Regions from separate parts of the Homo sapiens genome. Here all the other regions are linked to region 1. Evidence: fine-mapped expression QTL. A gene starts in region 1. Each other region holds a variant in brackets. All regions are shown on one strand. Distances are from middle to middle. Region 1 holds the start of PPP3CB-AS1 (PPP3CB antisense RNA 1). Region 2 overlaps ANXA7 (annexin A7). Region 3 holds the start of MYOZ1 (myozenin 1).

Evidence for each region. PIP is the estimated chance that this variant, and not a neighbour inherited with it, causes the effect.
Region 2: its variant is fine-mapped to the expression of PPP3CB-AS1 in unexposed skin (GTEx, PIP 0.96).
Region 3: its variant is fine-mapped to the expression of PPP3CB-AS1 in whole blood (INTERVAL, PIP 0.92).

What each region holds. Positions count from the first base shown.
Region 1 is chr10:73,491,640-73,501,561 of GRCh38, reverse strand. PPP3CB-AS1 (PPP3CB antisense RNA 1) reads right to left here and starts at 5,810. Exons shown (of 5, transcript NR_132104.1): 1 at 5,745-5,810; 2 at 5,079-5,420; 3 at 1,875-1,967. PPP3CB (protein phosphatase 3 catalytic subunit beta) reads left to right here and starts at 5,538. Exons shown (of 14, transcript NM_021132.4): 1 at 5,538-5,757. The coding sequence starts at 5,673. It overlaps USP54 (ubiquitin specific peptidase 54), which reads left to right. Exons shown (of 24, transcript NM_001391956.1): 23 at 724-907; 24 at 2,374-4,024. The coding sequence ends at 2,933. RefSeq lists enhancers at 5,332-5,521, 6,012-6,471 and a silencer at 5,602-5,951.
Region 2 is chr10:73,375,782-73,385,703 of GRCh38, reverse strand. ANXA7 (annexin A7) reads left to right here. Exons shown (of 13, transcript NM_001156.5): 8 at 2,014-2,127; 9 at 2,359-2,529; 10 at 5,503-5,673; 11 at 5,750-5,825; 12 at 6,681-6,793; 13 at 9,487-9,922. The coding sequence ends at 9,609. Among named protein-coding and RNA genes, the nearest start is that of CFAP70, 22 kb to the right of the region's middle. The variant C/T (reference allele first, on the strand shown) is at 4,718.
Region 3 is chr10:73,633,697-73,643,618 of GRCh38, reverse strand. It overlaps MYOZ1 (myozenin 1), which reads left to right and starts at 2,145. Exons shown (of 6, transcript NM_021245.4): 1 at 2,145-2,208; 2 at 3,584-3,674; 3 at 5,697-5,875; 4 at 8,886-9,135; 5 at 9,554-9,719. The coding sequence starts at 3,602. The variant TC/C (reference allele first, on the strand shown) is at 5,236.

The DNA of each region.
Region 1 (9,922 bases):
TAATGGAATTGTGGATGGGAAGTGGGAAATCAAGGTCATTGCCAATGTTTGAATATGGGTGATTTAGGAAAATGAGGTGCCAGGAGGAGGAGTTTGGAAGGATTTTGGTTCAATTTTGGATATGTTAGTGTTTCAGATGTTAAAGGGGAATATTTCTGGGTATTTATCATAAAAGTAGATAACTAATAGGGAGTAGAGCAGGACATTAGCATCAGTAAATACAAACTTGACAGGCAAAAGAGGAAGCTGTGGAATGTGTAGCAGTGACAGGAGAGAAGATGGGGTAGAGTTCTTGATTCTACATTTAAACATATATAGTTTCATTCCCAGTACTTAGAATAAGTGAAGGATTTTTTTTTCTCATTCTCTCAGGCTTTCTGAATTTCTCATATTTCGTTTTTATTTTTAAATTTCTATCTCAATCTCTCTAATTCTACTGTTAGCATTAAGGAGTTTGCTAAAGACCTGAATGATAGGGTTGGGAAGGTGAGGGATATGAGGAAGACTGGTTAAGGGATAAGGATCTGAAGTTTGCAGTTTCTTAGAGGGCTAGCAGGGAGAGCAACTGAGTAAATTGGGTCCTGTTCCAGAACAAGGCATGTAGGCATGTTTGTGCTCTGGTTCCCTCCATTTCCCTTTGCTTGCCTCACTGTGTTTACCCAACTACATCCTGCTTTGTGTTAATCCTCATCTCTATGTTTTTTTGTCTTGTCTCATTATAAGGATTCATCAAACGTGAGGAAGCCTTTGGAAACCGGGCACCGTTGTTCCAGCTCCTCTTCCCTCCCTGTCATCCATGACCCTTCTGTGTTTCTCCTCGGTCCCCAACTCTACCTTCCCCAACCACAGTTCCTGTCCCCAGATGTCCTGATGCCCACCATGGCAGGGGAGCCCAATAGACTCCCAGGTAACTCCCCCAAATCTAATATTATATGCCAGAATTTGGTACCTTTTCAGGGGCCTCCAAGGGTCAAATCAGTATACCTATGGGGAGGGGGGTATCCCAAGGTGGAGTGGTGTGAAGATATGAATTACTGCTTCAAAGTCGTGCATTTATCTAGATAAATATTAAATCATTTGTTGGGCACCATGATTCTTAGACCAAGGGTTTAGACCAGCACCCCTAGAGTCTGTCTACTTACGAAAATGACCTGCTTCAGTCATGACAGAATAAGCTTTTAACTGACAAAGGGGAGTTAATACCCAGTCTTTGGGACATCCCCAGAACAGAAATGGTCATCTCTCCTTCTATCCTCTGAGCTAGTTTTCTCCCCTTCTATCCTCTGAGTCTCAGCTGAGGGATGGTCTAGGAAGATAAGGAATGAGTGGGAGAATTGGAAAGACCCTTTACATGGAGTACCCACACCATGTGTACAGACCCAGACAATTGTGGGGAAGGTGGGCAATATCATTTTGGCTTTCTTTGACCTTCCGAGTGAGATGTTCTCTTTTTTCCCCTCATGCACTGGATGTACAAGCTTGAGGCAGTGGTTCTCAATGGATAAAGGGGATGTACCACCGGTATCTAGTGGGTAGAGGCCAGGGATGTCCTCAACAGCACAGCCATTATTGTCACTTGCTCAGTTGTTGTTGTAAACCCTCAGAGTCAGCTGAACTATTTTAGGCCAAACATACTGTTTTTGCAAAGTATTTTTCATTAATAAATCACACAATGCACAGGGCAGTCTCTCCCCAACCCCAACAAAGAATTATCAGCCCAAGATACCAAGAGTGCCAAAGTTGAATAAATGTATAAGAAAAGGCATTCCACATTAGATCTCAGAGATCAAACAAAGGCAGCTTAACTGAAGTGAAGGTAACATTTTAAGAAAAGTTGGAGAAACAAAAAAAAAGCAAGGCACAGCGTCTCACACCTGTAATTCCAGCACTTTGGGAGGCCAAGATGGGAGGATGACTTGAGTCCAGCAGTTCGAGACCAGCCTGGGCAACACAGTGAGATCCCGTCTCTATTTTTTTTAAAAAGAAAAGCTGCGTGAGGTTTTGGTATGGTGGCTCTAGGAGTATAGTCATCACAAAGGGAGTATACGTTTGCCATATATTGCTATATATTAGGGAGCCCTTCTTTTGTAGGTGTGTGTATAGTGGATGAGAGATTATAGTGGAGGGAGGTAGAGGTATGGCAACATCCATGAGACTGTTTCATTTGCCCAGGTTGGAGGTATGAGATTTGATTTTGATGTATATTAAGAATTTTAAGAAATGGAATCAAAAGCACAGCTTGATTCATTCTTTCCCTTGTATGTATGCTCTTGGAGGAGTAGGGAATTGGGCTACACAGCTAGGCATGGCTCTCTGGGAAGGAGAATGGTTTTCTGAAGATGCTCAGTCTTTGGGTTTCTTTTCTTTCCCCAGGAACTTCAAGGAGTGTCCAGCAGTTTCTGGCTATGTGTGACAGGGGTGAAACTTCCCAAGGGGCCAAGTACACAGGAAGGACTTTGAACTACCAGAGCCTCCCCCATCGCTCCAGAACAGACAACTCCTGGGCACCCTGGTCAGAGACCAACCAGCATATTGGGACCAGATTCCTGACTACTCCAGGGTGCAATCCTCAACTAACCTACACTGCCACACTACCAGAAAGAAGCAAGGGCCTTCAGGTTCCTCACACTCAGTCCTGGAGTGATCTTTTCCATTCACCCTCCCACCCTCCCATTGTTCATCCTGTGTACCCACCATCTAGCAGTCTTCATGTACCCCTGAGGTCAGCTTGGAATTCAGATCCTGTTCCAGGGTCCCGAACCCCTGGTCCTCGAAGAGTAGATATGCCCCCAGATGATGACTGGAGGCAAAGCAGTTATGCCTCCCACTCTGGACACAGGAGAACAGTGGGAGAGGGGTTTCTGTTTGTTCTATCAGATGCTCCCAGAAGAGAGCAGATCAGGGCTAGAGTCCTGCAGCACAGTCAATGGTAAAGGTTATTCCTTTCCTTTCCTGGAGCTACACCTTTCTTTGTAAAACTGTACTGTGGGCCGGGCGCGGTGGCTCACACCTGTAATCCCAGCACTTTGGGAGGCTGAGGCGGGTGGATCACGAGGTCAGGAGATTGAGACCATCCTGGCCAACATGGTGAAACCCCGTCTCTACCAAAATACAAAAAATTAGCCAGGCGTGACGGTGCGTGCCTGTAGTCCCAACTACTCGGAAGGCTGAGGCAGGAGAATTGCTTGAACCCGGGAGGCAGAGGTTGCAGTGAGCCGAGATCGCACCACTGCACTCCAGCTTGGCAATAGAGTGAGACTCCATCTCAAAAAACAAAACAAAACAACAACAAAATAAACTACTGTGGCAGCGTTGGTACCCTGCATCACTGCCATGGTTGTGCTATTCTCATCTCAACATAGAATTGGTGGGTTCTCCTAAGGGTGTCAGGAACCTCTAAAAAGATGTGATTCTTTGGGAGGGGATATTTGAAATTCCAACTTCCATTCCCCCTAGCAAAAGGAAGCAGCTGCTGTTTAAGGGTTTTATCTGAGCCACTTTAAAGATGAATCCATGGTATTACTCTGGATACTAGCCATTCCTTAGGATTTTAAGGTCACATTTTATTCCTGGATGCTTTATGTCCCCACCTCCACCTGAGCCCTCATCCTCTGTTCCCTACTATACTCCCAACTTCTACTCTTTGTTTTATCCACCTATCCCTATTACCTGACCCTTTGTCTTCCCTGTCTCCCATCCTTGGGGGGACATGTAGCCCTGTGGTCATGGTTCTGATGACATCATCAGGGCAGCCCCCCTGCCCAGGTATTATGGCCTGTCAGCATTCCCTGTGCCCTCCAAACCTTAGGCCTAGAATGCGGAGCTGCCAACATAACATTCACCCTTTTGAACAGATGGAGTCAGGCACACTAACACAGCCTTCTGTCCTCAATAACACAGCCATTATTGCCACTTGCTCAGTCGTCAATGTAAACCCTCAGAGTCAGCTGAACTATTTTAGGCCAAACATACTGTTTTTGTAAAGTATTTTTCATTAATAAATCTATAAGACAGTTCTATTTAATTCCTTGTCATTCTTCCCTTTGTATGCTCTTGCTTTCTTTGTATTGGGGCTGGAAGTCTGGATAAATATATGAAGTGGCTTTTGACTGAGTGGAAGTGAGGAGCCAGAGACGAGTTGAAGGATATACAATCAAGGTGGGAATCAATGGGTCCTAAAATAGGGTGCCTTTCCTTTCTAGTATTGCTGCTAGGATGTTTCCCATCCCTTTCCTGACAGAGCATTCAGTACTCAGTACATTATACACTTCCTTCCTCCCCTCCTTAGGAAGATTTTCTGGGGATTCAAGCTCTTCTTACAGACTCACTCCTGATCAATGTACTCCAGGTGCCTTCCCTCTATCTTATAAGTTTGTGACGTGCCTCCTGTCCCTTCCTTCCTCTCCTTCCGTGGGGGCCTCTCCCTTTCCCTTCCCCTGTGGTGTTATGGCCCTTCCATGCCAGAAAGATCCATTTTCACCTGTGCCTCACTCCCGAGACTCTTCCCTCTAAAAAATAGCTTGTGGGTTCCCTTTTTGGAAAAAATCCATTGTTGGGTCTTTCCCTTCCTCTTTTCCTGGGGTCTCAGGATAGAAATTGACACAAAGAAGAGGTAGAAAGGTACTCCTTGGACCTTCGGACTACTACTTACTTACCACCATGCATTATGAACAGATTCTGAGCACATGTATTATTGAGCAGGAGGATGGGCAGGAATTGGTTGTTCCATCCCACTTGGATCCTGCACCATCAAGATATATAGAGCTTAGTGGATATGCTGGTCCCTGTCCATGATTCAACATATCTCCTGGTGTCGTGGACACACTCATCTAATAATTTTTGATGAACAGTCAGTTCTTGCCCCTCTACCCCCTTTCCCATGAGTGTCAGTCACCGTGGTCTCTATAAAGGTTCCATAAGTCACCTGGGCCCAGATTCTGTGCATGTGCAGAAATAAGGAATTAATTTCCAATTCCCTATTTACTCCTCTGCCTTCCAGGAGGAGGTTGTATCCTTTTCAGGTGAATTCTTCAGATTCTTTGCACATCTCTTGGTGTCATCCCCTTTATTCCCCTTACCTGTTTTGACAAACTATGGCGCCTAAATTGCTCTAGCTGCAGTCTTATTCTGTGCTTTCAGACTCTTGACAATTCCAGACTCTAAACACAAAGGCCAGAATTCTCTTTCAAACTCCATTTTGGATGGTCCCTTCTCCACTCTAGAACCTACAATGCTTCCTCTATTCTCTGGTCCCCTACCAACCCTTCAGTATTCAGATCTGGTAGCTAAATCGTTATACATTTCTCTATTAGTAGGAGATCCTGAGGTTTAATCACGTCTTCTCAGTTTACTGGGAATGCCATGAGAGCGGGTGTGTTTCCTCGCAGTCGTTCGATCGCAGCACCTCCTCATTCTTCATTCTGCATGCAAAGAATTTTAACCTGATCCCTTGGCCTCGTCCTGTTTCTCTCCTAGCTTCAGTAATTTTGCCCAAGTCCCTAGAGCCTACCCCGCCCCCACCCCCGCACGCGCAGTGCATGCCGGTCTTAGCCCCTCTGTAGGGAAAGAGGGTCCGCCATGTTCCCCGGCGGCGCCGCCGCTTGGCTCTGGTAGCCGCCGCCCCCGCCCCCAACCCCGCCCGGCCCAGAGCCTAGCCGAGCCCCGGGCCCAGCATGGCCGCCCCGGAGCCGGCCCGGGCTGCACCGCCCCCACCCCCGCCCCCGCCGCCCCCTCCCGGGGCTGACCGCGTCGTCAAAGGTGAGAGGTGGACGAAACCCTGGGGGCCTGGCCTGAAGAGCTAGCTGTGTGTGAGGGCGGGCGGGAGACCGTCCCCTCGGGAGTGGGCCCGGAAGGGCGGGCGAGTGACTGGCTGCCTCCCTTGGGGAGTGGCCCCTGGGCGGGCCCCTGCTGGGCAGGGCTGAGTCGGTGGCAGTGGTTCCGCGGTCTCCCGGTTGCTTTCAGGCCGGGGCGGAGGTTTTGCTTCCGTGGCTTCCTAGCCCAAGGGGTGAGGCTGTTAGCTGCAGTGAGCCCGTTTTCTCTTCACTCGGCCTGTCAAAGCGGCGCAGGGGCCGCGATTAGCTTCCTGCCCCGCGACAGCTGCACTTCTGGCTTGCCGGGGCGAACCGAGGGGCTCGGAGACCTTCAGCCACGCGAGGCCCGCCAGTGAGCAGTCAGAAATCACCTCGGCTTTGGCCCACGCCTGCTCCCCGGTGACAGTCGTCCGCCCTATCCGCGTCTAGCTGGCGACAACCGCAGGGGTTCACTTTTGGCCGTCAGGTGCCACCCGGAGCAGAAATTAGGGGAACCTTGTGGGATTGGATCACGGTGAAGGGTCGGGGCAGGAATTGGAAGGCCAGCCTTTATAGTGCAGAAAGGGAGAAAAAGCAGCATAAACGAAAAAAAAAATTCTTGTGGATAGCAAGTATTTACTTAGAAAACCATCAACACTTTGGTCAAAAGGAGTTACCCCTCCCTTACAAACACACACCCACACATTCATCCTAGACGAAAAAGTTAAATGTTTCTCAGCCAGGGCAGAATTTATGGATGTTTACCCACAACAGGTCAGCAGATTAATTTAAAATAGAGAAATTGAGGGCTAATTGAGAGTTGCTTAAGATTCCAAGCTTCCTGGGAGAGCCTACCAACCTCAAACACTGCTGTGGAGGTGAAAAACAATTGAAATGATTCTCTTTACCATGTAGCTTGATTGATAAATTGAAATCGTAGAATGAACTTTTCCTTATTTGTATTGTATTTATTTTTAAAATATAGGTACTTTTGTTTTCATTCAGCTTCTCAAATACACTGGCACAGTATTTAAACACCGTTAGCCTACTTTTTGAAATCTGACTCATATGTTTCCATTAAAATATTTAAAAACAAGGAAACCTTTTTTCTTTTTTTTTTTTAATTAAAAATTTTCAACCTGAGCCTTCTTCGGTTCTTAAAAGAATAATACTAATTTGGCCTGGCGTGGTGGCTCACATCTGTAATCCCAGCACTTTCGGATGCTGAGGCAGGCGGATCGCTTGAACTCAGGAGTTGGAGACCAGCCTGGGCAACATGGCGAAACCTTTTCTCTACCAAAAATACAAAAAATAAAAATTAGCCGGGCATGGTGGCGCGCCCCTGTAGTCCCAGCGGATCGGGAGGCTGAGGCACGAGAATCACTGGAGCCCGAGAGGCAGAAGTTGCAGTGAGCCGAGATTTGCGCCAGTGTGCTCCAACCTGGACGACAGAGCCAGACCCTGTCTCCAAAAACAAAAACAAAAACAAAAACAAAACACTGATTTGCACCTAGGCTTAAGTTAGTAGTATATCCAGTTGGGCCAGGCATTGGAATGAGCTGAATAACGAGTTTATGGAATCCTTAATACAGAGAAATCTTAAAAAAAAAATAGTAATGCAGACATTCATTCTATCAAGAAATCCTGGAGTTTTGTGGGGGTGGGAACGGGACATTGGCTACCTCTTCATTTTCTGACTGTATTTCTGTGTTGTGTGTTCATTTCCCTGGGCACTTTTCACCAGACTGTTAGATGGGGTAACCAATCACATTCCTGAACAATGAGTTTATGCTATCCTTACGTTTGTGAATCTTCTTATTCCTTGTCATATATATGGTAATGTTTTTTCTGTACTGCTTTAATGCAGTGAAAATAAGATTCCAAACATAAGGCAGATTCCTTAGGGGTGAGTTGTGAGTCCAAGGCAGTCATATTTGCAGGTTATTGGTGTGGAATAAAAGCCATTTGATTTAGATAAATAGGAAAGGAGCTTGTTAATATAGAAAATTATAGTTAAATAAAGCTTATGGTTATCATATTTCTGGTGCTTCATTGTGCCCTCTTCATAGAGACAACTTTCATTTCTTTATGGAATTTGTTAACCAGTTGGAATTCCTGTATGGATTATATGTTTTAAAATGGTGTGTAACAGACTAATTTGCACTGCTCATGGAGTCTCCTGCATTTACTGGGAAATTCACCTTTCTTACAGATCCAGAAATTCACTTTTAAATTTCATCTTCAGGATTCTTCCTTGTCTTTTATTCAGTAATTATACTATAATGTGATACCTGATATTAGAGAATACTGGTTGCCTGATGATAAATGATGTGAGTTCAGCTTAAGTTTAACTTGTTAAAATCCAAATTTCTTTTAAGTCCACAATGTGGTGGTAGTTTTGTATCGATACATTTTCATAGTAGTGATATTATGGAGACTGTCTGTTGGCATTGAATGCAAGTAGTCTTTTTCTCCCTGGAATTTTTTTTTTTTTTTTGAGACGGAGTTTCACTCTTGTTGCCCAAGTGGAGTGCAGTGGCGCGATCTCTACTCACTGCAACCTCTGCCTCCTGGGTTCAAGCGATTCTCCTGCCTCAGCCTCCCGAGTAGCTGGGATTATAGGTGCGCGCCACCATGCCCGGTTAATTTTTTGTATTTTTTAGCAGAGACGGGGTTTCACCATGTTGGCCAGGCTGGTCTCAAACTCCTGACCTCATGATCCTCCCACCGTGGCCTCCCAAAGTGTTGGGATTACAGGCGTGAGCCACCGCGCCCGGCCTGCCTCCCTGGAACTTCTTAGTGTCAAAATTTTATACTCCATGCTTGTAGTCATAAGGCCTACATTTTATGGTCATGTAGGTTTTTAAGGGTGTATAGGTCTTTCTGTGTTTAAGATCAGATACCTGAAATTCACTTTTTGTGAAGTTTGGGAGCTTGGAATACTGTAGGTGATTCATGAGTAAATGTGATGAGCTTGTCACTAAAATTATTAGTGGTAATTCCATGTCATTGATTATGGGTCATTAGGTTTTTGGTTGATTAAATTCAGTTCTGAGCCTACTCCAGCTGCTGGCTCAAGTCAAATTCTTCCCCTGTTTGAAAGTTGATCTAACCCACCTGATTAAGCAAGATGGTATATACCCTTTTAATTATATTCTATTAAGCATTCTTTAGCTATGTAGGAAATAAGAAAGTGGAAAAAAATTAGGAAAAATATCTAACCGTATCTGCATGTGTGCTTTCTTACCACATCAGCAAAGCTGGTATAGGTAATTGAAGCACAAAATCCTGAATTTATATATATTGCTTTCCCTCCTCCCCACAAAGTTTACTTGACCTGAATTGCCCAGATACCTCCTTTTTTCCCCAGATACTTAAAAAATGTACGTTTTGCTTTGTATACCAGGTTCTAGATTTGTAAAGCTGGATTGTCTCTTGAGATTATCAAGACTGTTAGTATTAATAAAAAATTCACCTTTTTACTTAGAGAGCATTGTCAGTATTGGGCATATGTTCATTTTAGCACCTACAATGTGAGTCATTTTCTTAACATTATTTTATTTCATGGGTTATAGTAACCTCAAATTATCAGACTTTCAGATTGAACCAAAATGCTGAATTTATGTGTTTTAATTTTTTTTAAGCTAAAGTATTTCTGATTGACAACGTTAGAATTCATTTGGATTCTGTTGCCAGTTGCCCTGCTTATAAATCTGAAGTCATTTGGCTAAAGTGTTTTCTAGTAGCTTTCCTTTAGGAGGATTACTTTTTGTTTATTTATTTATTTATTTATTTATTTATTTTTGAGATGGAGTTTCGCTCTTCTTGCCTAGACTGGAGTGCAATGGCGCAATCTCGGCTCACTGCAACCTCCACCTCCCGGGTTCAAACGATTCTCCTGCCTCAACCTCCCAAGTAGCTGGGATTACAGGCATGTGCCACCACGCCCGGCTAATTTTGTATTTTTAGTAGAGACGACATTTCTCCATGTTGGTCAGGCTGGTCTCGATCTCCTGACCTCAGGTGATCCACCCACCCTGGCCTCCCAAAATGCTGGGATTATAGGCATGAGCCACCGTGCCTAGCCAGATTACTTATTTTCAGATAACCCATATAGCCTTGGTGTGACATAG
Region 2 (9,922 bases), 120 kb after region 1:
AATTTTTTATCTAGTCTGCACAATGCTGTCTCAAGTTTTTTTATATATTGCTTTAGAATTAAAACTAACAATCTAATTTCCGTACCACTAGCCACCTCTTTTCTTAACTTCCTAATTAGTAAAACACTGTTTTTCTAGCCTGCTATAGTCATCTTTGAGTCCATGTTTTTCTTTTATCATAGGGAGTATTCTGTATGCTTTGTCCTAGCAGTTGGTTATTTACTAGTTTTTATTGATCTAATCTATAAAATGGCCCTTTAAAATGTTTCTTTTGTCTACTTTGTTCCTTCTCATTTCCATTGTTACCATTCAAGTCCAAGACTTTATTACCTCTTAACTAAATATTCCAGTAGCCTAAATGTTTTCATCTATAGCTTCTTTGTCACCATCATCCATTCTGAATATTGTTGCTACATCAGTGCCATTTTCTTGCATGAAAAGTTTCCAGTGGTTCCTCCCAGCAAACAGAATCAAGTCCATATTCTTTAGCTTGGCATTCAGTGTAATAATCCAAGATTTAGTTACAACTTTGTTTTAACTCATCTATTATGAAAACCTTCCTCTGTAGCAAAACCGGTTGTCTTATTGTTCCATTGAACAAGCTTTGCTCATTCTTGGCTCTATACGAGTAATTCTCAACCTTAACTGAACATCGTAATTTCCTTTAAAACTTAAAAATACACAGAATCTCTGAGTCTTAGTCCTGGACATCAATGTTTTTCTTTTTTTTTTTAAAGCTCCACAATGAATGTAATGAAGAGTCAAGGCTGGGAACCCCTTCTCTGTTCCTTGGTGGTGTTCCTTCTTACCTGAAATACCTTTCTCCTTCGTCTTTGCATGCTAATTTTTACATTTTTCTCTGAGCTCTCCAGCTGACTTTGAACTTTTTCTGTTTCAACTTTCTCTATTACTTATTTCTATGCTACTTACCCAGTGCTAGAGTACAGGTTACCTTACATTATTTTTTTTTTAGATGTGTATCTTTCCAAATAAGAACAATATCGGCTGGGCACAGTGGTTCATGTGTGTAATGCCAGCACTTCGGGAGGCCAAGGCGGGTGTATCACTTGGGGTCAGGCATTCAAGACCAGCCTGGCCAACATGTGAAACCCCATCTCTACTAAAAATACAAAAATTAGCCTGGCGTGGTGGGATGTGCCTGTAGTCCCAGCTACTCAGGGGGCTGAGGAAGGAGAAGCGCTTGAACCCAGGAGGCAGAGGTTGCAGTTAGCCGAGATCACACCACTGCATTCCAGCCTGGGCCACAGAGCGAGACTCTGTCTCAAAAAAAATAACAACAAAAAACAAATAAGAACAAGATGATAATGGTTTCTACTTCCTCATAGAACCAAGAACAGTTCCTTTTACTAAGTAAATATCTGTTTATCATTTTGTCAGTTTGAATAATTCTTTGTTTCATATATCCCTTGTTTTTGTACCTGGTAGAGTGGAATAAGATTTTATTAAATGTTTATTGATAGAATGAATAAAATAGATCTGCTTGAGTGTAATAAATGTGTAAGTGTAACAGACTTTAAATTTATTTACTTCTTTTTTATTTCTATTTATTTATTTTTTTTTTTGAGACGGAGTCTTGCTCTGTCGCCCAGGCTGGAGTGCAGTGGTGCGATCTCAGCTCACTGCAAGCTCTGCCTCCCAGGTTCACGCTGTTCTCTTGTGTCAGCCTCCCGAGGACCTGGGACTACAGGTGCCTGCCACCACTCCCGGTTAATTTTTTGTGTTTTTAGTAGAGACAGGGTTTCACCGTGTTAACCAGGATGGTCTTGATCTCCTGACCTCATGATCCTCCTGCCTTGACCTCCCAAAGTGCTGGGATTACAGGCATGAGCCACCGCGCCTGGCCTTTATTTACTTCTTAGTATATTAACATTCAGCTTTCAAATTTAGGTTTTTATAAAGCAATTCCATTTCTTTTTTTGTATTTTCCTTAAAAGATTTAAGTGACAAAATTTGGAGAACACATATACTTAGCTTGTATTTGTGATTAAATAGGATTTAATCAAAGATCTCAAATCAGAGTTAAGTGGAAATATGGAAGAACTGATCCTGGCCCTCTTCATGCCTCCTACGTATTACGATGCCTGGAGCTTACGGAAAGCAATGCAGGTACTACTATATGTCATTTATTATGAATATTTTGTCCTATTTCATATGTAAAACCGTACAAATTATGACAGTTCTGAATTTACAGTGGTAATTAAAGCAATTCTTTATTTCACATCATCCATCTGAATATATAGTTTTTAGTTCTACAGAACAAAGAAATATTTGACGAAGATTTAATTACTTGCAGAAATTTCATTTTTCTTTGTATAATCTTCCCTTCATTTCATGTAGGGAGCAGGAACTCAGGAACGTGTATTGATTGAGATTTTGTGCACAAGAACAAATCAGGAAATCCGAGAAATTGTCAGATGTTATCAGTCAGAATTTGGACGAGACCTTGAAAAGGACATTAGGTCAGATACATCAGGACATTTTGAACGTTTACTTGTGTCCATGTGCCAGGTGAGTATAGTATGAATGCTTGTGCGTTGATAGAGGGAACATACTTTAAAAGCCTTTTGCCAGTGAGCATTCTTTATTCCTTTTAATATTTAGCCACCTTGCAATATTGCCATCTTTAAGAGGGACAACACAGAAACCAGTGTACAGATTTCTTTGTAGTTACTATTGAGATTTATTCCTGTAAATCTGGCTTTTGTAAGGAATTAGAGATTTAACCTCTAAGGTTGTATGGAATCAGAAACCAATTCGAGGCTCTGTGGCTGGGATGGGGATGAAACTGTACATTTGAGCTTATCACTATCCTGCCCATTATGCCCCACCATCAAGTGAAGATGTGCAGGACTGCCATAGAGGTGCTACAGGAAGTGAGGACTATGTGAGGAGACCCAGAAATGCAGAAAAATGTTTTAGGGTTCCCAGTAATAACTGTGATTAGCACCTTCTTTATTTTGATTCCCCAGGTGTGCTGGAGAATTGACAGAAAATACTCCAAATAGGGTATTTGGAATGGCATTAGAAACACACTTAGGGCCAGACATTGTGCCTCACACCTGTAATTCCAGCACTTTTGGAGGCCAAGGCAGGAGGATTGCTTGAGGCCAGGAGTTTGAAGCCAGCTTGGGTACCATAGCAAGAAACCATCTCTATAAAAAATATTTTTAAAAATTAGCCGAACATGGTGGTATGTGCCTGTAGTGCCAGCTATTCAGGAAGTTCAGTGGGAGGATCACTTGAGCCCAGGAGATTGAGGCTGCAGTGAACTGTGATCGCACCACTGCATTCCAGCCTGGGCAATAGAGTGAGATCCTGTCCTTAAAAAAAAGAAAAGAAAAAAAGAAAAGAAGCACACTTAGATGATGAAGGTGTATTTGAAAGAGATTATGTAAATGACTAGCATGCTGATTCAATATCAAGAGTTATTGCCTATTGTGCTAGTGCACAAGATTGGACCATCTGGAGGGATCTAAAGGAGAGGAGGGGCTCTTAAGAGCCAAGGGAGGGGCTGGGTGTGGTGGTTCATGTCTGTAATCCCAGTACTTTGGGAGGCTGAGGCGGGTGGATCACCTGAGGTCAGGAGTTTGAGACCAGCCTGACCAACATGGTGAAACTCCATCTCTACTAAATACAAAAAATTAGCCAGGAGTGGTGGCACCTGTAATCCCAGCTACCTGGGAGGCTGAGGCAGCAGAATCGCTTGAACCCGGGAGGCAGAGGTTGCAGTGAGCTGAGATTGTGCCATTGCACTCCAGCCTGGGTAACAAGAGCAAAACTCCATCTAAAAAAAAAAAAAGGGAGGTAGCTGTGGAAAGGATAGTGGATATGGAAATGAGAAAGCAAAGTAAATGGGTTGAAGGAAATTGAATTTACCTAAATCAGAGTAACAGGAGGGCAGTAGGTTAGGATTTAAAAGAAACAAGAAGGAAAACAGACAATGCTAAAAAATGGCTATTAAGATTTTACATGAGGTGCTGAGTCTCTCTTTATGCAGAGTTCAAGGCCCAGCCCTACCTTTTCCAGGGCATGAGTAGAGGAGTAACTTCCTGAGAAAGTGTGTGTGAATCCAAAGGCAATAATCTGGGAAATTTTTTGTGAGTACCTTTTCCTGTGTTATATTCAGTCGCCCATGTAGAATGTGCCTCTACGTATTCCTTGTGCCAGTTGCTCAGAAGACAGTTCTTCAGCTTCAAGGAGGATTTTTCCATCTTATTCCAAAGATGGTCCCTGAGACTCTAAAAGGCAGCCTTTTCTTGTTTGGGTTTGTCTTTCTGTTTTTGAGAGAAACCAACTGCTCATTAAGCTTAAACTCTTCCTTCCTCCTTCCTTTCTTCCTATTCCAGGGAAGAGTGTGGTATACAAATAGGCACAGTCTAACAGAACATGAGTTATTTGTAGCTGCTTCTGTAAAGCTTATGTGTCATTTTTATGCGTGTATTTATGGTAAATACTTACATATTAAGATTATAATTCGATGGCTGAGTGTGGTGGTGTGAGCTTATAGTCCCAGCTACTCTGGAGGCTGAGGTAGGAGGATCACTTGAACCCAGGAGTTTGAGGCTATGATCATGTCTGCAAATAGCCATTGCACCCCAGCCTGGGCAACATAGTGAAATCGTGTCTCTTAAAAAAAAATATTATACTCAGATGAAGAAAAGAAAGTTTATGAAGCCTCCATATTATATCCTCCCTC[C/T]CTCCTGCCCTAGAGTTAAATTTCTTGAGGGCAGAGACCCTGTCTCTCCTGTGTCCCTACCGCTTAACACAGTGCCTGACACAAAGAAAGTGCTTAATGTCTCTTAGTCGCATGAATGAATAAAAAGTAGAACTCAGTACAGTGCATATTGATCTTAAATTCCAGCTAAGAGAGCTGTTTCTTCATTTGAGTGGTAGTTAATATCTCCTAGTAGAGATATTTTTGTTTAAACATTTTGGGTTTAATTTAGCTCCCAAAAGCCCTCATTTTTAACATAACCTCATTAAACCGTGATCTTATATTATAAAATCCAGTTGACAGTATAATAAATTACTAGTTATATTTCCATGCATAGAAATGAAGCATATGCATGACAGACATTATGGATTAATCTTTAATAAATTATCTCTTTAGGCCAGGCCCAGTGGCTTACATCTATAATCCCAGCACTTTAGGAGGCTAAGGCAGGAGGATCACTTAAGCCCAGGAGTTAGAGACCAGCACCTGGGCAACATAGTGAGACATGCTGTCTCTACAAAAAATAAAAAAATTAACCAGGCATGGTCGTTTGTGCCTGTAGTCCCAGCTATCTGGGAGGCTGAGGTGGAAGGATCACTTGAGCCTAGGAGGTTGATACTGCACTCCAGCCTGAGTGACAGAGCAAGACCCTATCTCAAAAAAAAAAGAAATAGTCTCTTTAAATCCAAAAGTGAACTAGATTGGAAAAAAAAAATTTAGTAGAACTATTATTTATTTCTTCCAATTCCTGCCTTTCTCTTTTGCAGGGAAATCGTGATGAGAACCAGAGTATAAACCACCAAATGGCTCAGGAAGATGCTCAGCGTCTCTATCAAGCTGGTGAGGGGAGACTAGGGACCGATGAATCTTGCTTTAACATGATCCTTGCCACAAGAAGCTTTCCTCAGCTGAGAGCTACCATGGAGGCTTATTCTAGGGTATGAGCTTTTCTTTTGAAGATTTGGCTTCTGCTGTAAGATACAAAAATATTTAACCCTTTAATTTTGTTTGCAGATGGCTAATCGAGACTTGTTAAGCAGTGTGAGCCGTGAGTTTTCCGGATATGTAGAAAGTGGTTTGAAGACCATCTGTAAGATATTTTTGTGCTTTGCTTTATTTTCTTTTTAAATGAGTGGGAGCTTTGAATAGTTGTTCCCATTAAATGTTGATAATATAGTCCACGTGGAATCTGCTTAGGCAGTAGCTGATCTAATCCTTTGGGGTTTGTTTTTTGTTGTTTGTTTTCTTTATTGGATAAGCCCCCAGAAACAGTCCTGTGTTTTTACATACAATTTCCTATGAATGGTAGTTCTGTGATCAAACAGGGCTGTTTGGGGATTATTTGGCCTTCATCTGTAGGCCTGTCTTGATAACTGTGCCAGAATACCTGATAGTTGTAGCACTTCCTTTAAAGAGAAAGGGAAAGTCCTGAGGAACTCACAGTGTCACCACGAAGCAGTTTGAGTCCTCAAAACAGATATTTCAGGTACTCAGCCCAGTGAGACTCATTTCCTTTTTGAAGTTAACCAGTTTCTGGTGGTCTAATACACAGATGTCTAACAAAGTGAAAGTTTCATTCTCATGGATATTAGGACTAAGGGGAGTATTAGTAACACTTTGGTATTAACAATGGAATGTTGGGCCAGGGGCAGTAGCTCACACTTGTAGTCCCAGCTACTCAGAAGGCTGAGGTGGGAGGATCACCTGAGTCTGGGAGGCTACAGTCAGCCATGATTGCACCACTGCACTCTAGGCTGGATGACAGAGTGAGAACCTGTCTCAAAAAAAATCAAGGAGAGCATCTGAACACTCTTAACTCACCCCATGTTTCTGTGATGATTACAGAGAAAATAATCAAAGGCAGGCTATAAGTGATAAATGAAGCTGGAGGGGTACACTTCTTGTGAGATCATGATTCCATGTCTCAACCATCTCTAACTTGCAGTGCAGTGTGCCCTGAACCGCCCTGCCTTCTTTGCTGAGAGGCTCTACTATGCTATGAAAGGTGCTGGCACAGATGACTCCACCCTGGTCCGGATTGTGGTCACTCGAAGTGAGGTGAGGCAGGCCTCTCTCTTTTTGTCGGGTCTTACTTGATGTTCAATGTTGATTTCTTAAAAGTTCCCCAGTTGGTTGTCAGTCCCTCAAAAATGATAAGAAAGAGCTCTCTTTGCCACCTAAAAGAGGTGGTATAAAGAACAGAAAATTCACTTTCCTCATGCTGTGGGAGAAGCTTGCATTAGTGAAATAGGCCACTCTACCCTAATGAAGATAATACTAACAGATTTTACAACTTGAGAACGTCAATGGAGAATACAAATTTATGGGAAGTTAGACATTTGTCTTTCGATTTTCATTTTGCTTATATAAAAATTAGATGAAAGGCCTATGTAGATTAATCCTAGTGGATATCAACATTATTTAAATTTAGCATCCTTTATTAATAATAAAACAATTTTTAAAATATTCATAATTGTCTCAAGTATAGCCTCATTTTTAAAAATTGTACTTTATATATTTACTCCACTTACAAAAAATTTTTTTTCTCAGAAGAAATGACATTTGAATTTTTTTTTTTTTTTTTTTTTTTTGAGACATGGTCTCACTCTGTCACCCAGACTGGAGTGCAGTGGCACGATCTCAGCTCACTGCAACCTCCACTTCCTGGGTTCAAGCAATTCTGTCACCTCAGCCTCTCGAGTAGCTGGGACTACAGGTGTGCGCCACCATGCCCAGCTAAGTTTTTGTATTTTTTTGGTAGAGATGGGGTTTCACCATGTTGGCCAGGCTGGTCTCGAACTCCTGACCTCAAGTGATCCACCTGCCTCGGCCTCCCAAAGTGCTGGGATCACAGGCGTGAGCCACCACGCCTGGCCTGAACTTTTAATTGAAAGAAAACATGGCGGGGTGTCGTGGCTTACTCCTGTAATCTCAGCAGTTTGGGAGGCCAAGGCGGGAGGATTGCTTGAGCCCAGGAGTTTGAGACCAGCCTGGGCAACATGGTGAAACCTATTTCTACAAAAAACACACGCGCGCGCACACACACACACACACACACACACACGCCGGGGCGTGGTAGCCTGGGCAACATGGTGAAACCTATTTATACAAAAAATACACACACACACACACACACACACACGGTGAAACCTATTTATACAAAAAATACACACACACACACACACACACACACACCCACACCCACCCCCCGGCATGGTAGTCCCAGCTACCCAGAATGTTGAGGTGGAAGGATCACCTGAGCCTGGAAGGTCAAGGCTGCAGTGAGCCGTGATCGCACCACTACACTCCAGCCTTGGTGACAGAGACCCTGTGTCAAAAAAATACCCTAAATTATTATTATTATTGCGTGTTTTTTTTTTTTTTTTTTTTTTTTTTTTTGAGATGGAGTCTCGCTCTGTCACCCAGGCTGAAATACAGTGGCATAATCTCGGCTTACTGCAACCTCTGCCTCCCGGGTTCAAGTGATTCTCCTGCCTCAGCCTCCTGAGTAGCTGGGATTACAGGTGCGTGCCACCATGCCTGGCTAATTTTTTTGTGTTTTTAGTAGAGACTGGGTTTCACCATGTTGGTCAGGCTGGTCTCGAACTCCTGACCTGATGATCCGTCTGCCTCGGCCTCCCAAAGTGCTGGGATTATAGGCATGAGCCACCACACCCGGCCAAAAACCCTAAATTATACTAAAGAAGGTAGATTATTTTTAAAGAAAACAACCAGAATATGGTATTTTGAAAAAAACTTTGTTCTTTAACTTAAATTTTCAAAGCAGGATGTTTTAAGTTGTGATAAAATATACATAACATAAAAATTTACCATTTTTAAGTAGCAGTAAGTACATTCACATTGTTATGCAACCATCATTACCATTCACCTTCAGATGTTTTTTCAACTTGCAAAACTGAAAATCCATACTCCTTAAACAGTAACTCCCCATTCTCCTTTCTCCCAACTGCTGGCAACAAACCATGTGACTTTCTGTGCCTGTGTTTGACTACTCTAGGTACGTCATATTGGTGGAATCATACAATATTTGTCTTTTTGTGAGTGTTGTCTTTTACTTAGCATAGCGTCCTCAAGGTTTATTCATGTTATAGCATGTCAGAATTTCCTTCCTTTTGAGACTGAGTAATTAAATAGTCTATTGTACGTGTATCCCACCTTTTGGTTTTTTTTTTAATTCATCTGTGACACTTGGTTTGTTTCTGCCTGAATAATGCTGCTATGAACATGGATGTACAAATATCTGTTCAAGTCTACTTTCACTTATTTTGAATATACCCAGAAGTGGAATTTCTAGGTCATATTGTAATTCTTTGGAAGTGTTTTTGTTTTGCTTTGAGGAATTAACCATATTAGTTTCCACAGCAGCTGCACCCTTTTACTTTTCCATCAACCTGTGTACAAGTGTTCCCATTTCATGGCATCCTTGCCAATACTTACTATTTTTTTGGTTTTGATAATAGCCATCCTATCAAATGTTTTTAAATGACTAATATCTTTGGAATAATAGATGAAACTAGTACTACCCTGACCAAGTATTTTACAGAGCTGTGAATCAGACCTTCATTGGGTAGTGCTAGCATTGGTATGAGTGCCAGCCATAAAATGTCAGTCACTTGGTGTTTTCCCCCCCAAGTTTTGATTATTATTAAGATCTTATTATTTAAAAAGAATTTTAAGAAATGTCAGTTGTCACAGATGTTTTTCTGACAGAAATATTATTTCTTATGCAGATTGACCTTGTACAAATAAAACAGATGTTCGCTCAGATGTATCAGAAGACTCTGGGCACAATGATTGCAGGTGACACGAGTGGAGATTACCGAAGACTTCTTCTGGCTATTGTGGGCCAGTAGGAGGGATTTTTTTTTTTTTAATGAAAAAAAATTTCTATTCATAGCTTATCCTTCAGAGCAATGACCTGCATGCAGCAATATCAAACATCAGCTAACCGAAAGAGCTTTCTGTCAAGGACCGTATCAGGGTAATGTGCTTGGTTTGCACATGTTGTTATTGCCTTAATTCTAATTTTATTTTGTTCTCTACATACAATCAATGTAAAGCCATATCACAATGATACAGTAATATTGCAATGTTTGTAAACCTTCATTCTTACTAGTTTCATTCTAATCAAGATGTCAAATTGAATAAAAATCACAGCAATCTCTG
Region 3 (9,922 bases), 140 kb before region 1:
TGGTGCGTGCCTGTAGTCCCAGCTACTCAGAGGCTGAGGTAGGAGGATCACTTGTGCCCAGGTGTTCAAGTCCAGCCTGGGCAACATAGTGAGACCCCCATCTCTAAAATAAAGAAAGAAATAATTTTTTAAAAAGCCAGCTAGGCACAGTGGCTCACGCCTATAATCCTAGCACTTTGGGAGGCTAAGACAGGAGGATTGCTTGAGCCCAGGTGTTTGAGACCAGCCTGGGAAACATAGTGAAACCCTGTCTCTACAAAACATATGAAAATTAGCTGGGCGTGGTGGCATGTACCAGCAGCCCTAGCTACCTGGGAGGCTGAGGTCGAAGGATTACCTGAGCCTGGGGAGGCTGAGGTTGCAGTGAGCCAAAATTGTGCCACTGCACTTCAGCACAGGCAACAGAGTGAGACCCTGTCTCAAATAAATAAATAAATAAATAAAGCCACTTCCTCAGGTAGCAGCAACAGGGTTGTGGTGGCTGCAGCAGAAGTGCTGCAGCAACTGGTTCCAGAATCTAAGCAGAAGGTGGAGGAAGATCATGCAGCTACTGAAGAAGGGCCTGGGGAAATGATAGGCTTTCCCCAAAGGGGCTTTCAAGCCTGTGGCCCTGCCCAGAGACTCCGCTGGAACAGTACAAATGGCACAGTCCAGATCCTATGTGGTATGTGCTCCCTTTGCAGGAAATCTCAAGTAGAAACCTCAGAGAGCCTGTAATCCCAGCACTTCGGGAGGCTGAGATGGATGGATCACGAGGTCAGGAGATCGAGACTATCCTGGCTAACACGGTGAAACCCCATCTCTACTAAAAATACAAAAAAAAATTTAGCCGGGCGTGTTGGTGGGCGCCTGTAGTCCCAGCTACTCGGGAGGCTGAGGCAGGAGAATGGCGTGAACCTGGGAGGTGGAGCTTGCAGTGAGCCGAGATTGCGCCACTGCACTCCAGCCTGGGCAACAGAGCGAGACTCCGTCTCAAAAAAAAAAAAAAAAAAGAAGAAGAAAAGAAACCTCAGAGAGCCTATATGTGCTTCTCAGGGAGACATCGATGTCTATCCCGCACAGCAGGTTGAACTGAGCATCTCAACAGCAAATGGAGGTTAAAAGGCAGATCCTGGCTGGGCGTGGTGGCTAGAGAATAACTCCTTAGAGACCAGATCCTGGCGGTGGCTCACGCCTGTAATTCCAACATTTTGCGAGGCCAATGTGGGTGGATCACCTGAGGTCAGGAGTTTGAGACCAGCCTGGCCAACGTGGTGAAACCCCGTCTCTACTAAAAATACAACAATTAGCCGGGCATGGTGGTGGACACCTGTAATCCCAGCTACTCAGTAGGCTGAGGCAGGAGAATTGCTTGAACCCAGGAGGTGGAGGTTGCAGTGAGCCGAGATCGCACCACTGCACTCCAGCCTGGGCAAAAAGAGCGAAACTCCATCTCAAAAAAAAAAAAAAAAAAATGCAGATCCAAGTGTTTGTCTTTTATTAAAACTGCCAGAGCTCAAGAGGAAAGAATAGGGAGTGAGGCAGACAGAATAATTGTCAAGTCTTCCCCACATCATTCCTTTGTAGGAGGTACTGGGTTTAGTTAATTTGGTCCCTTAACCTGCCAAGATCTAGCCCTTACCGAGAAAAGACCAACCTATCCAGGAACTTTAAAAGAGCAGTTCCACTGTGAAGACTTCCCTTTTTGTCCCCAAATATAGCACTTTAAGCCCTCCCTGCTCCAAATACACCCACAGGTCTCTCCACTCTGCCCTGGATTGGCTCTGTGTGGCCCTCAGGGCATGTTCCCCAGACTCTCTCTCTCTGACTGAATTCCTATCCAATACTTGCTGTCTACTTCCTGTCTCCCTCTCAGTCTTCAGTTTCTCCCTAAGTGCTTCTTTGGATCTCAGGCTCTAGGTGCAATGTGAAGGGGAGTCCCTGGGCAGACTGATCCCTGGCTCAGACAGTTCAGTGGGAGAATCCCAAAGGCCTTTTCCCTCCTTCCTGAGCCTCCGGGCAAGGAGGGAGGGATCTTGGTTCCAGGGTCTCAGTACCCCCTGTGCCATTTGAGCTGCTTGCGCTCATCATCTCTATTAATAACCAACTTCCCTCCCCCACTGCCAGTGCTGCCCCCACGCCTGCCCAGCTCGTGTTCTCCGGTCACAGCAGCTCAGTCCTCCAAAGCTGCTGGACCCCAGGGAGAGCTGACCACTGCCCGAGCAGCCGGTAAGTCTCCAGCTCTATCGTTAGAAAGGCTGGAGCCCACTGTGTTGACTTCTGTGTCTGTGTCTACAATTGTGATTCTTGATCCTGGGGGAGTCTCCCCTCTCCTCATCTATGCTCAGCTCCCAGCTGTCCAGTTGGAAGGAGAGGGGAAGGAGAGTTGGAAGGAGAGGGGCCCAGGAGGTTGGGGGGAATGGAGATGTCGGGGGAGGCACTGGAAGAATGGGAAGGGAGACCCCACTAAGTCAGTAGAGTTGCAGATGTATTTTTTGAGACAGGACTTAGAAGAGGACAGCATTTCACTGAGTGCCAACTTCTCTTAAGAAGGGATTGGAGTCCATCTTATCCCAGTTTGTCCCTTTCCATTGCCAGATCCTATTACTATGTTTCTGCCCCACCTCAATTCCCCACTGCTATGATATTGCTGAATTGACGTGTCGGGATTTGAATGCTCCCTACCCTTCCCAGTTCCACACCTGCCTCCACTCTGGGGTCTGTGGCGGGAGTGATTGCAGGAGCAGGGCCATGACTTCCCAGGCCATGTTCCAGCTGGCCTGATGAAGGAGCAACAACCTCTCCTTCCTATGGAGAGTGTTTTTGGCTGAATCTCCTCAACCCTGGCAGAATATTTCTCTGTCCTCCTGGGGACTGGGGGAAGACTGAGGAGAGACCAGAGCCTGGAATCACAGCCCCAGTCTGATATCCCAGTGCAAATAAAAACTTCAAATCATGCCAAGCCAATGAAACCTGGGTGCATTGCCCTGCTTGTGTTATTGTTTTTTAAACACTCCCCACACCTAGCTATGTTCCTAATTCCTGCACTGACTCTATGAAAAACAGCTCACAACAGGTTGGTAGACAACAGGGGCTGGTGTGCATCTATACTTCCTGTCCTGTATCCCAAGAAAAGAGAAGCCCTAAAGCGCAAGTTTTCACCTTTTGGGGAAATACATGCTTCTTTGAAAATCTGGGTCAGGTGAAGTGGCTCACCCCTGTAATCTCAGCACTTTGGGAGGCAGGAGGACTGCTTGAGCCCAGGAGTTTGAGACCAGCCTGGGCAACATGGCAAAACCACATTTCTACAAAAAATACAAAAATTAGCCAGGCACGGTGGTGCGCACCTATAGTCCCAGCTACTTGGGAGGCTGAAGTTGGAGGATCACCTGAGCCCAGGGAGGTTGAGGCTGCAGTGAGGCATGATTGTGCCATTGCACTCCAGCCTGGGCGACAGAGTGAGATCCTGTCTCTAAAAAAGAAAAAAAAATTTTTTTGTCCCCTCAAGCCCTTAAACCCAGGTTAAGAAGTGCTGCTCTCCTACAGACACTCACTCTTCCCAGTCCCTGTCCATCCACCAACTCCTCCTTCCCACCCTGTCCAGGCTGAATCCACCTCCACAATGCCGCTCTCAGGAACCCCGGCCCCTAATAAGAAGAGGAAATCCAGCAAGCTGATCATGGAACTCACTGGAGGTAGGACATGTTTGCATCTCCCTAGTGTGGGACTTCTTAAGAGCATCCCTAAACCAAGAGTCCCAGAAATATATATCTTAGGGTGAACAAACAAGAGAAATTAAGTGGTGGGAAGGCGGGTGATGGGGAGTGGGAGAGGGAAGATTAAGAAGGGTAAGGAGAAAGAGAGAAAAGATTCAACACCTTCTACCCTTTTCACTTCATAATCTGAGACAATACCCTGCCATGTTACCTGCACAGGTCCAGGACCACAGGACCCATGAGTCAGTGAGGTATATTTGAGGAAGAAAATATAATGGAGACTGGCACAGACTCAGGTCTCAATAAGTGGTTAATTTCCCTTACTTCTTTCCCCAGAGCTAGGGAGCTTGTGTAAGTACTTAAAATGGAAAACTGCACAGGCATGTTTCCTGGGGGTGGGCAGGGGTGCATGCATGTGAAGAGCTCTTCAATACCTAGAGACTCTTTGGAGCCAGAGCTCACTGAGGGAAAGAAAAGGGAAAGTAGTTAAGACAGAAGTCTGGGCCAGGTGCAGTGGCTCACGCCTGTAATCCCAGAACTTTGGGAGGCCAAGGCTGGTGGATCGCTTGAACTCAGGGGTTTGAGACTGGCCTAGGCACATGGTAAAACCTCGTCTCTACAAAAAGTACAAAAATTAGCCAGGTGTAGTGGCATGTGCCTAGAGTCCCAGCTACTCCAGAGGCTGAGGTGGGACGATCGCTTGAACCCGGGAGGTGGAGGCTGCCGTGAGCCATGATTGCGACGCTACCCTCCAGCCTGGGTGACAGAGTTCATCCTAAGATATATTTATTTTGTCTCAAAATAAATAATACAAATAGGGCTGGGGCTGTGTCTCATACCTGTAATCGCAGCACTTTGGGAGGCTGAGGTGAGAGGACCACTTGAGCCCAGGAGTTCAAGACCAGCCTGGACAACATAATGAGACCTCATTTCCATTAAAAAAAAAAAAAAAAAAAAAGTCCAGGCGTGGTGGCTCATGCCTGTAATCCCAGCACTTTGGGAGGCTGAGGTGGGCCAATCATCTGAGGTCAGAAGTTCAAGACCAGCCCGGCCAACATGGTGAAACCCTGTCTCTACAAAAATAGAAAAATTAACTGGGCATGGTGCCGGGTGCCTGTAATCCCGGCTACTTGGGAGACTGAGGGAGGAGAATCACTTGAACCCAGGAGATGGAGGTTGCAGTGAGCTGCAATCGCGCCATTGCACTTCAGCCTGGGAGACAGAGCAAGTCTCTGACTCAATAAATAAATAAATAAATAAATAAATAAATAAATAAATAAATAAAATGTAGGCTGGGCGCCACGGCTCACGCCTGTCATCCCAGCATTTTGGGAGGCCGTGGCTGGTAGGTCAGTTGAGCTCAGGAGTTTGCGACCAGCCTGGCCAACATGGTGAAACCCCATCCCTACCAAAAAATATAAAAATCAGCCAGGGATGGTGGTGCAGGCCTGCAATCCCAGCGACCTGGGAGGCTGAGGCAGGAGAATTGCTTGAACCTGGGAGGCGGAGGCTGCAGTGAGCTGAGATCGCGCCATTCCAC[TC/C]CAGCCTGGATGATAGAGCAGGACTCTGTCTCAAAAAAATGAAAAAAAAGAATAAAAAATAAAAACAAATATATATATATATATATATATGGCATCTGTATTTGGACTCCACACAAGATTGGCCTCTGGGTTTTTCCTGATGCCATGGTTTCTCCAATGGCCTCCATCTATGATGTTCCTTTACTCCTTTTGCTCTGTACCCCATGCCCGTACCTCTTTTACCCCATTGGCCTCTCCACTCTAGTATTCCCATTATCTCCACAGTGCACCCCAGTTCCCATGCATTCTCTCCAAGTCCCAGGAAATCAAAATCCCTCACAAACTAGACAGCATTTGTTCCCCTAAATGACCTCTGCCAGGACACACATACACACTTAGTTGTGGATGAGGTCTGCATTCTGAGCCCAGAAAACCCTACTTTCCTCTTTCCCTTGATTCTTCTTCTTTGCCTCCCTGAAAGGTGGACAGGAGAGCTCAGGCTTGAACCTGGGCAAAAAGATCAGTGTCCCAAGGGATGTGATGTTGGAGGAACTGTCGCTGCTTACCAACCGGGGCTCCAAGATGTTCAAACTGCGGCAGATGAGGGTGGAGAAGTTTATTTATGAGAACCACCCTGATGTTTTCTCTGACAGCTCAATGGTGAGTCTGGAACTTTATCACTATCTCAAAGCCTGGTGCCTGTTCTGACAGCTTGTTAGTAGGCCCTGAACCTCCAAAATGCAGTCAACATCCCCTCCCTGAAAATTTATAAATTTGTTAAACCCCCAGATATATTGAGCCCGCAACAGCTCCAGGGTGAGTTACAGCCCACCTCTGAAACCCAGTTTTCATCATAGAGCCACTGAAGGGTTGGAGAATACCACACCCTTAGGGAGAAAATTCCTTCCCAGTAAAGGTAAGTGTTAAAGATAGATTGCCAGATAAAACACAGGATGCCCAGTGGGGCAGTCCAGTCTTGTATTTTGAAGTTGAGATACACAATGAATAATTTTTTAGTGAAGTATGCTCCATGCAATATTTGGGACATAAAGATAAAAATTTAAAAAAATTTTAGAAAGAAGATAAGGCAGCCAGGCATGGTGGCTCACACCTGTAATCCCAGCACTTTGGGAGGCCGAGGCAGGTGGGTCACCTGAGGTCAGGAGTTTGAGACCAGCCTGGCCAACATGGTGAAACCCCCATCTCTACTAAAAATACAAAAAATTAGCTGGGCGTGGTCGTGGGTTCCTGTGATCCCAGGTACTCAGGAGGCTGAGGCAGGAGAATCACTTGAACCCAGGAGGTGGAGTTGCAGTGAGCCCAGATTGTGCCACTGCACTCCAGCCTGGGCAACAAGAGTGAAACTCTGTCTCAAAAAAAAAAAAAAAAGAAAGAAAAAAGAAAAAAGGAAGAAGATAAGGCAAAGAATAAAATTGAAATTTTAAAATACAGAATATACAATTAAATTTGAGTTTCAGATGCACAATGAATTCTTTTTTAAATATGTCCCATGCAATATTTGGGACATTAAAATAAAAATACAGGATGTCCACTTAAATTTGAATTTCAGATGCAAATGAATAATTTTTTTAGTATAAGTAAGTCCCAAGCAATATTTGGAGGCATATCTATACTAAAAAAGTATTTGGGTCAAGTGTGGTAGCTCACACCTGTAATCCCAGCACTTTGGGATGCCAAGGCAAGAGGACTGCTTGAGTCCAGGAGTTGGAGACCAGCCTGGGCAACATGGCAAGACTCTGTTTCTACAAAAAATTAAAAAGTTAGCTGGGTCTGGTGGCGCACACCTGTAATCCCAGCTACTCTGGAGGGTGAGGTGGGAGGATGGCTTGAGCCTGGAAGGTAGAGGATGCATGAACATGAGCCATGTTCACACCACTGCACTCCAGCCTGGGTGACAGAGAACCCATCTAAAAAAAAAAAATAAAAATTTGTTGTGCATCTGAAATTCAAATTTAAGTGGTATCCTATATTTGATTTGCTAAATCTGGCAACCCTAGAAAGAGTTAATTGAGTTTTTACAGCCACCTCCCATTTGAGCCATTCTTCCATTTAAAGGGTCAGTCTATTCCCTAAGAAGCCCCAGGTGTGGAGACTGAAACGGTCCTTCAAGATATATTCTAGTCAGGCTCCTTCTCCAAAGAAAGAGGAGACTGGAGAGGGGCCAGGCACAGGATGGTATAGCTGAGGAAGAAGGGCCTTCTCCATTTCCTTTCTTCCTCCTCCACCCTCTCTGAGTGGCTGGGGGAGAGTGGAAATAGATGCCTGCATGGGGCCGGGGGCAGAAGTGTCTGTCATTGGTCCTCATATAGGAGCAGAGTAAAAGTGCTGAGCTGCTCATATCTAACTTTAGGAGGCCAAAAGCACTCTTCTCTGCCTGGGTCTGGTTACACTGGGTGGAGCATTGGGGTGTACATGGTGGGATGGCCAGGAGAGCCTCCTGAAGAAGTTGGTGGGGTTATTTTTAGGCTTTGGGTTTGCATCTAATGTTGCCCTTTTGGCCACACTTCCCCCCACCTGCTACAGTGTCACTGTCACCAGTGAGGTCCAACAGGCACCAAGAGGAGAGAGGAAGAGAAAGAAGGAGAGAGAAGAGAGTTCTGACTGTTGGACAAGCTGAGGAAGGGAGGGGGCAGAATTTCTCTAGTCCTTGTAATTAAGACTGGGTGCTCCATGGCAACCCCATCCTCCCAAATTTTAGTTGGGGCTGGACACAGCTCATGCCTGTTATCTCAGCACTTTGGGAGGCTGAGGCAGATGGATCACTTGAGCCCAGGAGTTTGAGACCAGCCTGGGCACATGGCAAACCCTGTCTCTAGGAAAAAAAAAAATACAAAATTTAGCTGGGTGTGGTAGCATGCCAGTAGTCCCAGCTACTTGAGAGGCTGAGGTGGGAGGATTGCCTGAGCCAGGGAGGTGGAGGTTGCAGTGAGCCGAGATTGTGTCACTGCACTCCAACCTGGGTGACAGAGCCAGATTCTGTCTCAAAAAGCAAAAGAATTTTTTTTCATTTTTTTTTTTTAAAGCTGGGCAGGCGTGTTGGTCTTTTTTGACTTGTTAAGGATGAGAAAGGGGAGTGTGGAGAACACGCTGCCCTTACCCTAGGTATAACTGGAGGAAACGAGCCAAGGGAGTCCTACCTCTTAAGAAGAGTTTAATTCGGGCTGGGTGCGGTGGCTAACGCCTGTAATCCCGGCACTTTGGGAGGCCGAGGTGGGTGGATCATCTGAGGTCGGAGTTTGAGACCAGCCGGACCAACGTGCAGAAACCCCACCTCTACTAAAAATATATCAAATTAGCCGGGTGTGATGGTGCATGCCTGTAATCCCAGCTACTCGGGAGGCTGAGGCTGGGAATTGCTTGAACCTGGAAGGCTGAGGTTGCGGTGAGCCGAGATCGTGCCATCACACTCCAGCCTGGGCAACAAGGGCGAAACTCTGTCTAAAAAAAACCACAAAAAATCAAACAAACAAAAAGAAGAGTTTAATTCTCTTAGTCAGCCCATGTACTACCCATCAACTGGAGGGGGAAATATCAGAAAATTCAGGGTCTTCTGGTTAGCCACTATTTCTGCCTTTGCTAAACATACCTCTGTTTTTGTATATTTTCCATACCCATTGCTAACCTTCCCCTCACTTTGTCTTCTTTTCAGGATCACTTCCAGAAGTTCCTTCCAACAGTGGGGGGACAGCTGGGCACAGCTGGTCAGGGATTCTCATACAGCAAGAGCAACGGCAGAGGCGGCAGCCAGGCAGGGGGCAGTGGCTCTGCCGGACAGTATGGCTCTGATCAGCAGCACCATCTGGGCTCTGGGTCTGGAGCTGGGGGTACAGGTGGTCCCGCGGGCCAGGCTGGCAGAGGAGGAGCTGCTGGCACAGCAGGGGTTGGTGAGACAGGATCAGGCAAGTACACTCACCCAAGAGTAATGTGTTTGGTCCCTAGAGCAGAGTTGTCCCAGGAATGATGTCTACGCTGAGTGTGGGGAGCAGAGGAGGTCAGTTTAAATATCTTAATATTAAATATAATAATATCAGTTTAAATATCATAAATATCTTGGTGAATTACCTGGGTCCAGGAGTATATAGAGATGTGTCTATTCTACCCAGAAGCCTTGTTTTTCAGTTACTTTCCTGGCTTTTCGGATTCAGTCACAGATCTGCCCACAGACTATCATTATGCCACAAACCTTATACAATTACCAGGATATTATATCTTTAGTCCCTGGCTCTTGCAATTTCCCTAGTGTAGGGGCGTGGGATTACCTTTCATTGGCTACTAAATGCTATTATTTGACTGAATTTTCTCTCCCATGGCTACCAGGAGACCAGGCAGGCGGAGAAGGAAAACATATCACTGTGTTCAAGACCTATATTTCCCCATGGGAGCGAGCCATGGGGGTTGACCCCCAGCAAAAAATGGAACTTGGCATTGACCTGCTGGCCTATGGGGCCAAAGCTGAACTTCCCAAATATAAGTCCTTCAACAGGTAGGGGTGGTGAGGAAGGAACCAGATGCATTCTAGTGTGAGGCACTGTGTCTTTAGTTAGGATGGAGACTAATTCAAATGTTTCAGAAGGAGGCTAAGGAGAGATGGCAGGGATATGGGGGTCCTAATCAAAGGCCCTGCTCTTTTCACTCTATCTCAGCTTCATCATAGCAGTGTGATGAAGGAAAAAATTTGCTGGGAGG